Linked DNA regions of Homo sapiens: all the other regions are linked to region 1. Evidence: fine-mapped QTL for protein levels in blood plasma. A gene starts in region 1. Each other region holds a variant in brackets. All regions are shown on one strand. Distances are between the middles of the regions. Region 1 holds the start of PSRC1 (proline and serine rich coiled-coil 1). Region 2 overlaps SARS1 (seryl-tRNA synthetase 1). Region 3 overlaps CELSR2 (cadherin EGF LAG seven-pass G-type receptor 2).

The links. PIP is the chance, under the fine-mapping model, that this variant and not a neighbour inherited with it causes the effect. The UK Biobank Pharma Proteomics Project read protein levels with antibody pairs (Olink). The fine-mapping took linkage between variants from a reference panel, not from the people measured, so its PIPs are less certain.
Region 2: its variant is fine-mapped to the plasma level of the PSRC1 protein (UK Biobank, PIP 0.97).
Region 3: its variant is fine-mapped to the plasma level of the PSRC1 protein (UK Biobank, PIP above 0.99).

Annotation. Positions count from the first base shown.
Region 1 is chr1:109,282,084-109,284,926 of GRCh38, forward strand. It overlaps PSRC1 (proline and serine rich coiled-coil 1), which reads right to left and starts at 1,062. Exons shown (of 8, transcript NM_001032291.3): 1 at 980-1,062; 2 at 597-653; 3 at 435-492. The coding sequence starts at 615. RefSeq lists enhancers at 1,431-2,156, 1,524-1,573.
Region 2 is chr1:109,214,453-109,216,952 of GRCh38, forward strand. The region is part of intron 1 of SARS1 (seryl-tRNA synthetase 1); the gene reads left to right. Among named protein-coding and RNA genes, the nearest start is that of SARS1, 1.8 kb to the left of the region's middle. The variant C/T (reference allele first, on the strand shown) is at 1,494.
Region 3 is chr1:109,260,471-109,263,313 of GRCh38, forward strand. CELSR2 (cadherin EGF LAG seven-pass G-type receptor 2) reads left to right here. Exons shown (of 34, transcript NM_001408.3): 3 at 572-794; 4 at 1,043-1,158; 5 at 1,338-1,426; 6 at 1,817-1,974; 7 at 2,336-2,499; 8 at 2,672-2,797. Among named protein-coding and RNA genes, the nearest start is that of CELSR2, 12 kb to the left of the region's middle. RefSeq lists an enhancer at 337-836. The variant A/G (reference allele first, on the strand shown) is at 1,275.

The DNA of each region.
Region 1 (2,843 bases):
ATCATGCCCATGCAAAAGGGAACAGGAGATTATGCAAGGGAGACTGCATAAAAGCCCCACAACAGAGCCAGGGACATGACCCTAGGCCCCGATGCCCATGCTGGCTGTGAGATGTGGCCTCTGGGCGATGAGATACCTGGTTCTATGGGGCCTAATAGGCCTTTAGCATTTACGGACATCAGAAATGATGCCAGGATGGAGATGCAGCAAATCCACTTATCCTTCTTCTTAACACCCTGAAATCTAACTCCAGCTTCTCCCTTCTCTCCCCGCTACCAATAGTGTCATAGAGGCCCGAGTCAGCCAGCCGCCCAGCAGCCCCAAGTGCGCCAAACCTTGCTAAGTTACCAACCCAAGCCAATAATTCAGCAGTAAGGGATTCGAGACAAAGAGGTACTGTTAGAGGAAAATAAGTGGGATAAAGAGGCTGGTACCTGTCAGATGGTGACAGCCCCCCAAAGTCCAAGGTCTCATCCACAATAAACCTTACATCTGAAGGGGAAAGAAGAATGAAAGCCAGTCATGGGTCCCTGATGCAGCTCTCCATCGCTGGGTCTCACTCCTCCCTTTCATTCTTCCCTCCCTCCTTTCCTTACCTTCCTCCAAATCCTCCATGTCCAGCCAGCAGGAGCGAGAGTCCAGTTAGATCTGAGCTGGAGAGAAACCATACCTTTCCTCAGGTATCCATTCTGCCCAAGGCTCGCAGCTAGATTCAGGGTGCAAGCCAGGGTCGGGGGTCATGCTGGAGGCAAAGCAAGCGCCCAGGAGTGGCACCTCCCGCACAGCTACTCCTGCTACCTCCGGGAACGATACGGAGGGCTCCCCCAACTGCCCAGATTGCCCTGGAGCCGCCCTGCATCCTGGCCTCTCCTCACTGGGGGCGGCCTGCACGCCCCATCTTCCTCCCCGCCACTATCCTCAGGGTTCTGCACTCCCCAAGCCACCTTTCCACTCCCCTGGCATCACACGCGAAGCACACCTCCAGCCCACCCTGTGTCCACTTCCCGCGCCGCCTTATCTTCCACGCAACAGGCTTTCTCCCGCAACCTAGTCCCGGGAATCAGCTCCGAGGGGGCGGGGCTCCTTTCGAATCTCTCAGGCCCCACCTACTCAAGCCACACGCGCACCGTGATTGGTGAATCCTCAGGGGGAGGGGCTGAGGAGCTGCCGGCCGGAAGTCAGCCGGTGGGGGCTGGGGGAGAACCGTTCCCAGAAGACTGCATCCCGGTGGCGGAGCCGAGGGTTGAGGCTGCGAGTGCGCGTGCTCGCGTGCGCGGAGACTCTCTTTCCCGTAGGCAGATGGGAGCAGAGCGCGGCTGGCCAGGAGGGAAGAAACGGACCCACGAGTATGGAACTCGCGCCCCGCCCCGCTCCCTCTGCTGGGCCGCCGAGCACCCAGTCTCCAGAACGGTTGTGCTGCCTAACGTGGCCGCTAACCGACGCTCTACGGGAGGAAATTCGTTTTCTTGGGCGCACTCAATATGCAGGCGCCGCATTGGCCGAGGTTCCTCAGTTGTGGGTTTTTTCCAAGTTAAGGGAGCACCTAAACACTTATATTGTAGGTATATTGAGGTTCTCTTAGAAGTACATCCTCCATCGCCTCTTCAAGAACCTGAGGCAGCTGAGGTGCAAAGAAAGCAACGGGCTTTTCACGCAGGCAGGCTTAGGTTCAAATGCAACCCAAGTTTAACTGACCTCAGAACCCAAGTTTCGGTTTAGAGGCGGCTGCCTTGAGTATATTTGCCCTCTTTTCACCTCTCTTCGCTTATCTGTGAAAGGAGGATGTTGGTCCTCGCAGTTACGGTGTTACGAGGATAATTATGAAGGCGTTTTCTACCGTGTGCCCTTAGGGGATTTAGAGGGGGTGTTTGTAAGTAGCCCCCTCTGAACTAAAAGCAGTATTTGTAAAATGCTTAAACCAACTTGTTAGGAGTGTTGTCTCTGTTGTTTCTAAATGTTGCCCGGGCCACCAGTGAACTTGTCAGAGGCTTCAAACCAGAACGACTCCATCTGGAATAGAGGCTGGGTAAAATAAGGTTGAGACCTGGGCTGTATTCCTAGGAGGTTAGGCATTCTAAGTCACAGGATGAGATAGGAGGTTGGCACAAGATACAGGTCACAAAGACCCTGGTGGTAAAACAGCATGCGGTAAAGAAGCCAGCCAAAACCTACCGAAACCAAGATGGCGATGAAACTGACCTCTGGAGGTCCTCAGTCCTCATTATACGCTAATTATAATGTATTAGCATGCTAAAAGACACTCCAGACAGCATCACCACGGTTTACAAATACCATGGCAACATCAGGAAATTACCCTACATGGTCTAAAAAGGGGAGGAATTCTTAGTTCCAGGGAGTTGCCTACCCCTTTCCCGGAAAACTCATGAATAATTCATCCCTTGTTTAGCATATAATCAAGAAATAACCATAAAAATGGCCAACCAGCAGCCCTCCGGGCTGCTCTGCCTCTGGAGTAGGCATTCTTTATCCCTTTTCTTTCTTAATAAACTTGCTTTCACTTTATGGACTTGCCCTGAATTATTTCCTATGCAAGGGCCAAGAACCCTCTCTTGGGGTCTGGATCCGGACCCCTTTCTGGTAACAACAGGAGGAGACAGCAGGTCCGCACAAGATACAGATCTCAAACATCCCTCTAATAAAACGGTGCAGTAAAGAAGCCGGCCAAATCTGCCAGAAACCAAGATGGTAAAGAAAGTAGGCCAGGCGCGGTGGCTCACGCCTGTAGTCCCAGCACTTTGGGAGGCCGAGGCGGGCGAATCACGAGGTCAGGAGATCCAGACCATCCTGGCTAACACGGTGAAACCCCGTCTGTACTAAAAATA
Region 2 (2,500 bases), 68 kb before region 1:
GGTCTACGCGGCTTTCCTAACACGAATCTTTGGTCCCCCCCAGTCTTTTTCTCATCTTCAGCAAGGCCAGAGTGGTTTTCCTTTGTTTTGATAGGATCAAAGGCTTCTCCTGAGACTGCGTCACTTCTGCAACACAGTAGATTCATTCCTTCGGTATCGGAAGCATTTCGGGGCGTTGGAGGCCGCTCTTGGCCAAAATAAATGACCCTGAAGCTTTTCGGAAGGCCATCCCCCGACCTATGGGCATACCTTTAAGAATTAGAAAAGTCTTTTCCGTGGTAGATCAAACGCGAGGGGAGTGAGGAGGCGAGCAAAAGATTGTAATGACTGAAGCTGTTTAATTGTGATTTGTGGACGTTTTCCTTTAAAGACATTGGCAGAGTTGGGCTAGAACCTGGAACTGCCGGATCTTGGAGTCATATCGGGCATCTATCATGAAGCCGAATAAAACCATAGAACCATCTGCCCATAAATCTCTGCCTGTATTAACTGGAGTGGTCGCTGGTTGGGCGGATGCTGTCAAGTACTTGTGATTTGATTTGTCTGATGCAATAGGTCTGCAACCATCTGGGAGCTAGGTCGATGACAGTACACTGCAAAGGCAGCCACTATCCAAGAGTGTGATGGATTTCTATTAGGAAAATTGATTTTCTCCTGTTTATAAGGATCTTGGATGTCAAAAGAATATTTGTTTAACTTGAGTTTTGTGCTGATTCTATGTCTTAGGCCCTCTATTGTAGTAGTTTGTTTGATTGTGAGATTCCACACTTGACCTGAAGTTTCGAGTTGCAATGGAATTTAATTTTGCCACATTTTTTGTTTAGGATAAAACTAGCCTGAGCACTGTTCTACTGAATCTGAAGTCAGGAGTATCAGATTTTTGTGTCAGTCCAGCCCTTAGCCAGTGCTAAATGACTTTGAATGTGTTAGCTAGTCTTTTGGGTATAATGTCCACATCTGAGGGATTTGTCCCTTATCTGAAAAGTAGATAGGTGGTGAGTTCTTCAGGGACAAGGATTCAATTTTATTCATACAGTATATATGTGGATATACATATACACATTTATACATAAAATCCCAGTACCTAGCACTGTACCTGGTCCTTGGTAAGGCCTTGATAAAGGTTTGTTAGAGGCGTGAATATTTTCTGTCTTCAGGGCACTTTATATTCTTTATGAAAAGCAGTTTATGTAGTTTATGTTATTGTTTTAAAAAACTTAATCCTAAATGTGAAGTCATTTCTTTTCTTTGTTTTGTTTTGTTTTGTTTTTGAGACGGAGTCTCTCATTATCACCCAGATTGGAGTGCAGTGGCACCATCTCGGCTCACTGCAACCTCCATCTCCCGGTTTCAAGAGATTATCATGCCTCAGCCTCCAAGTAGCTGGGACTACAGGTGTGCACCACCACACCCAGCTAATTTTTTTTTTTAGTTGAGATGGGAGTTTCACCATGTTGGCCAGGCTGGTCTCTAACTCCTGACCTCAAGTGATC[C/T]GCCTGCCTCAGCCTCCCAAAGTGCTGGGATTACAGGTGTGAGCCACCATGCCTGGCCAATAGTTTATTTCCAATGCATCTATTAATTTGATTCTTTTCTATTTGACAACCCTTTCCAATATTCTCTTTGCATCCAAATGGAATTTATGTTTTTTCCCAAGTTCCCAACTGCCCAAGGTAGACACTGGCAGATTTATATCAAGGTTCTTTGACATCTTGAACTTCAGATCAGAGGATGGAGTTCTTCTCTCATTGCCTTGAGCAAGGGCTTATAACCAGAGCCACATTAAGAACTCAGATCATGCTCCCTAATTGAGGACACATAGCAAGCTTCACCAAGCCCTCCACTACAACTATACCAATTTGTCTTCCTGTAGACTTACAAGGTACCACTAGGGTTCCTTTGGAGAACTCAGGAGTCCAGTATAACTTGGAGTGATAATACCACATTGGAACTCACAACTCTTCTAACTCCAGGGATTTGAATGTGATTTCTTCTTTTTAATTCAGAGTAGCGTAATGATCCTACACTTGGGCATATTTGTCTTGGCCCCACTCCCAAAGCAAATAGATTTCCATGTAACTGGAAATCTGCTGCAAACCCCAAGAATTTTATCCTCCCTCAAAAAGTGCTATCCTGAGTGGTTTTTTTTTTCTTTTTACTGTACATTGAAAATTGAAGTTGTTGTTTCCTTTTTTTTTAATTTGAGACAAGGTCTCACTGTGTCACCCAGGCATGATCACAGCTCACTGCAGCCTCAATCTCCCCAGGCTCAGATGATCCTCCTGCCTTAGACTTCTGACTAGCTGAGACTACAGGCGCAATGCCACCATGCCTGGCTAATGTGTGTATTTTTTGTAGAGATGGAGTTTCGTCATGTTGCCTAGGCTGGCCTCAAACTCCTGGCCTCAAGCGATCCTCCCACCTCGGCCTCCCAAAGTGTTGGGATTACAGGCATGAGTCACCATGCCCAGGCTAAAGCTGTTATTTCCTCATAACCTTTACT
Region 3 (2,843 bases), 22 kb before region 1:
CTCTCATACTCTTCCATAACCCAGACAAATCTAAGTGGAAGCCTGGTCCCATCCCCAGGGAGGGAAACTGATCTCAGTGCCTGAGAGGGACAAAAGCACCAGTGGGAAGGAGGGAGGAGGGAGGCTCCCAGCCCTCCCGCTGTCCTGCAGGCCCATCTGCTTGTGCACATTTACCCTCTTGGGGGCCAGGACACCCCCAGGTGTGCTTGGTAGTGTGACATCGAAGGCTCCCGGGATCCGGGCCTTACAACCAAGTGTCCCAGCAGGCCTGTGCTTATGAAACCCAAATGGGGTAGGGAAGGTGCTGGGGACTCCGAGGAACTTGCAGGGGAGCAGTGCGTGGAGCTGTGGCGAGAGCGGCTCAGTGAGCCAAACAGGGTGCCCATGAAGGGCTGGGGACCATAGGTCTCAGAGAAGATGGCACACGAGAGGAAGTGGGGATGCCTGGGAGGTTTGGGGAGTATTACGAGGGTCACGGGAGGCCATGGGAGCTATCACTGGGTTGTGGGGGGTCTCAGTTCCCCTCCTGTCCTCAGGTACTTGGTACTCACCTGCCTTTCCTCTTGTCCAGGTGAGCACTGTGAGGTGAGTGCTCGCTCAGGCCGTTGCACCCCGGGTGTCTGCAAGAATGGGGGCACCTGTGTCAACCTGCTGGTGGGCGGTTTCAAGTGCGATTGCCCATCTGGAGACTTCGAGAAGCCCTACTGCCAGGTGACCACGCGCAGCTTCCCCGCCCACTCCTTCATCACCTTTCGCGGCCTGCGCCAGCGTTTCCACTTCACCCTGGCCCTCTCGTGAGTGGCTGGGCACTGGGGGTGGGGAGTGGGCCTGGTGGGCATCTGAGGTGCCTCCTGTTCTGTGGTTGAAGTAAGAGGTCAGGCAGTGAAAGCGTGGAGCAGGCTGCCGGCAGAGCCAGGTCTGCTCTTGGAGTTGCCTGTGGTTCTGCCAGCAGATCTCCCTCCCCTGCGCTGGTTAGGTGGCGGGGGTGCTGGCATCCAGGTGGGTACCCCATTCCCTGCCCCCATCCCCAACTCCTGTTCAGGTTTGCCACAAAGGAGCGCGACGGGTTGCTGTTGTACAATGGGCGTTTCAATGAGAAGCATGACTTTGTGGCCCTCGAGGTGATCCAGGAGCAGGTCCAGCTCACCTTCTCTGCAGGTGATCACAGTTGCCCCCCATCCTTGCCCATCTTCCAAAGGCCCCAAGTCTTCCAGCCCCTGACCCCAAGCCACATACTCTATCAGCCAAATCTGGGCCCAGCCCCAGCCACTGGC[A/G]CCCCAAACCCTGCCATTCCTAGCCCTCGTCAGGCATTCCAGCTCACCTGGTCCTTTCCCCAGGGGAGTCAACCACCACGGTGTCCCCATTCGTGCCCGGAGGAGTCAGTGATGGCCAGTGGCATACGGTGCAGCTGAAATACTACAATAAGGTGGGTGTGGAGGGCACAGAGGGTTGGGGGTTCTGTTCTTGCCTCAGGTGCTTACCCAGCCCTGAGTGGCATTGCCTCCAGGCTTGGGTGGGCTGGTCAGGGCATTTCTGGCTGAGAGGAAGGGAGCGGCTGGGAAGGTGCCACCTTGCTGGGCATTCCCACCCCACTGGGCACTGCTCGATGCTCTCTGTTCCACTAGGCAGCCGCAAACTTGGACACTGAGGAAGGTAGTTACATGCATAAACCACGTGAGCACACGTGTGTGTATATGCATGTGTGTACGTGTGTCTGGGCATGTGGGTGCACACAGAGGCACCCAGTGTGTGCTGGCCATGAACCTAGTGGGCTCTGTACTCAGTGTCCCCCTTCTCTGCTCTTTCCTGTCCACAGCCACTGTTGGGTCAGACAGGGCTCCCACAGGGCCCATCAGAGCAGAAGGTGGCTGTGGTGACCGTGGATGGCTGTGACACAGGAGTGGCCTTGCGCTTCGGATCTGTCCTGGGCAACTACTCCTGTGCTGCCCAGGGCACCCAGGGTGGCAGCAAGAAGTGAGCAGGGGAAAGGGCCAGGGATGGGGTGAAGTGAGGGCAGGGCCAGGCAGGGAGGGAAGGTGGAGAGGGTGGGCTTTTGGGGTCTCTCTCCCTTTGCCTCTCTTAGCCCCTGCTCAGCCCTGGGGATGGGGTCAAGACTGGGGAATCAGAGCAAGGCCCTGTGGGGCAGTCTGGGGAGGGGGCTGAGTGTTCGACAAGAACAGTTCCAGGTAGGGGTGACGCCCTTCCTGAGCACTGCTCTGCAGGGCCTCTTGGACACCTGCCTACGCCGTTCGTGTCTCTGGCCTGGCGGCAGAGCGAGCGGAGGACCAGAAGCTCCCAGCCCTCCCTTGTGCCGCCACCATCTTTGCTCCCCCAGGTCTCTGGATCTGACGGGGCCCCTGCTACTAGGCGGGGTGCCTGACCTGCCCGAGAGCTTCCCAGTCCGAATGCGGCAGTTCGTGGGCTGCATGCGGAACCTGCAGGTGGACAGCCGGCACATAGACATGGCTGACTTCATTGCCAACAATGGCACCGTGCCTGGTATGGGGGCCCGGGGTGGAGCCAGGCTGGGATCCCAGTGCTGAGAGGAGGGGCTGTGCCTGGTGTGAGGATGCCAGAATGGAGGGTCTCAGAGGCCTCTCTAACTGCTGCCACAGGCTTTCTCTTTAGAGCCCCAGCTCAGGTCCACTGAGCTGCCTTCTCTCCATTCCAGGCTGCCCTGCCAAGAAGAACGTGTGTGACAGCAACACTTGCCACAATGGGGGCACTTGCGTGAACCAGTGGGACGCGTTCAGCTGCGAGTGCCCCCTGGGCTTTGGGGGCAAGAGCTGCGCCCAGGGTAGGAGGGGCGGCTGTTAGAGGCCACAGCCTGGGTGCCATCAACA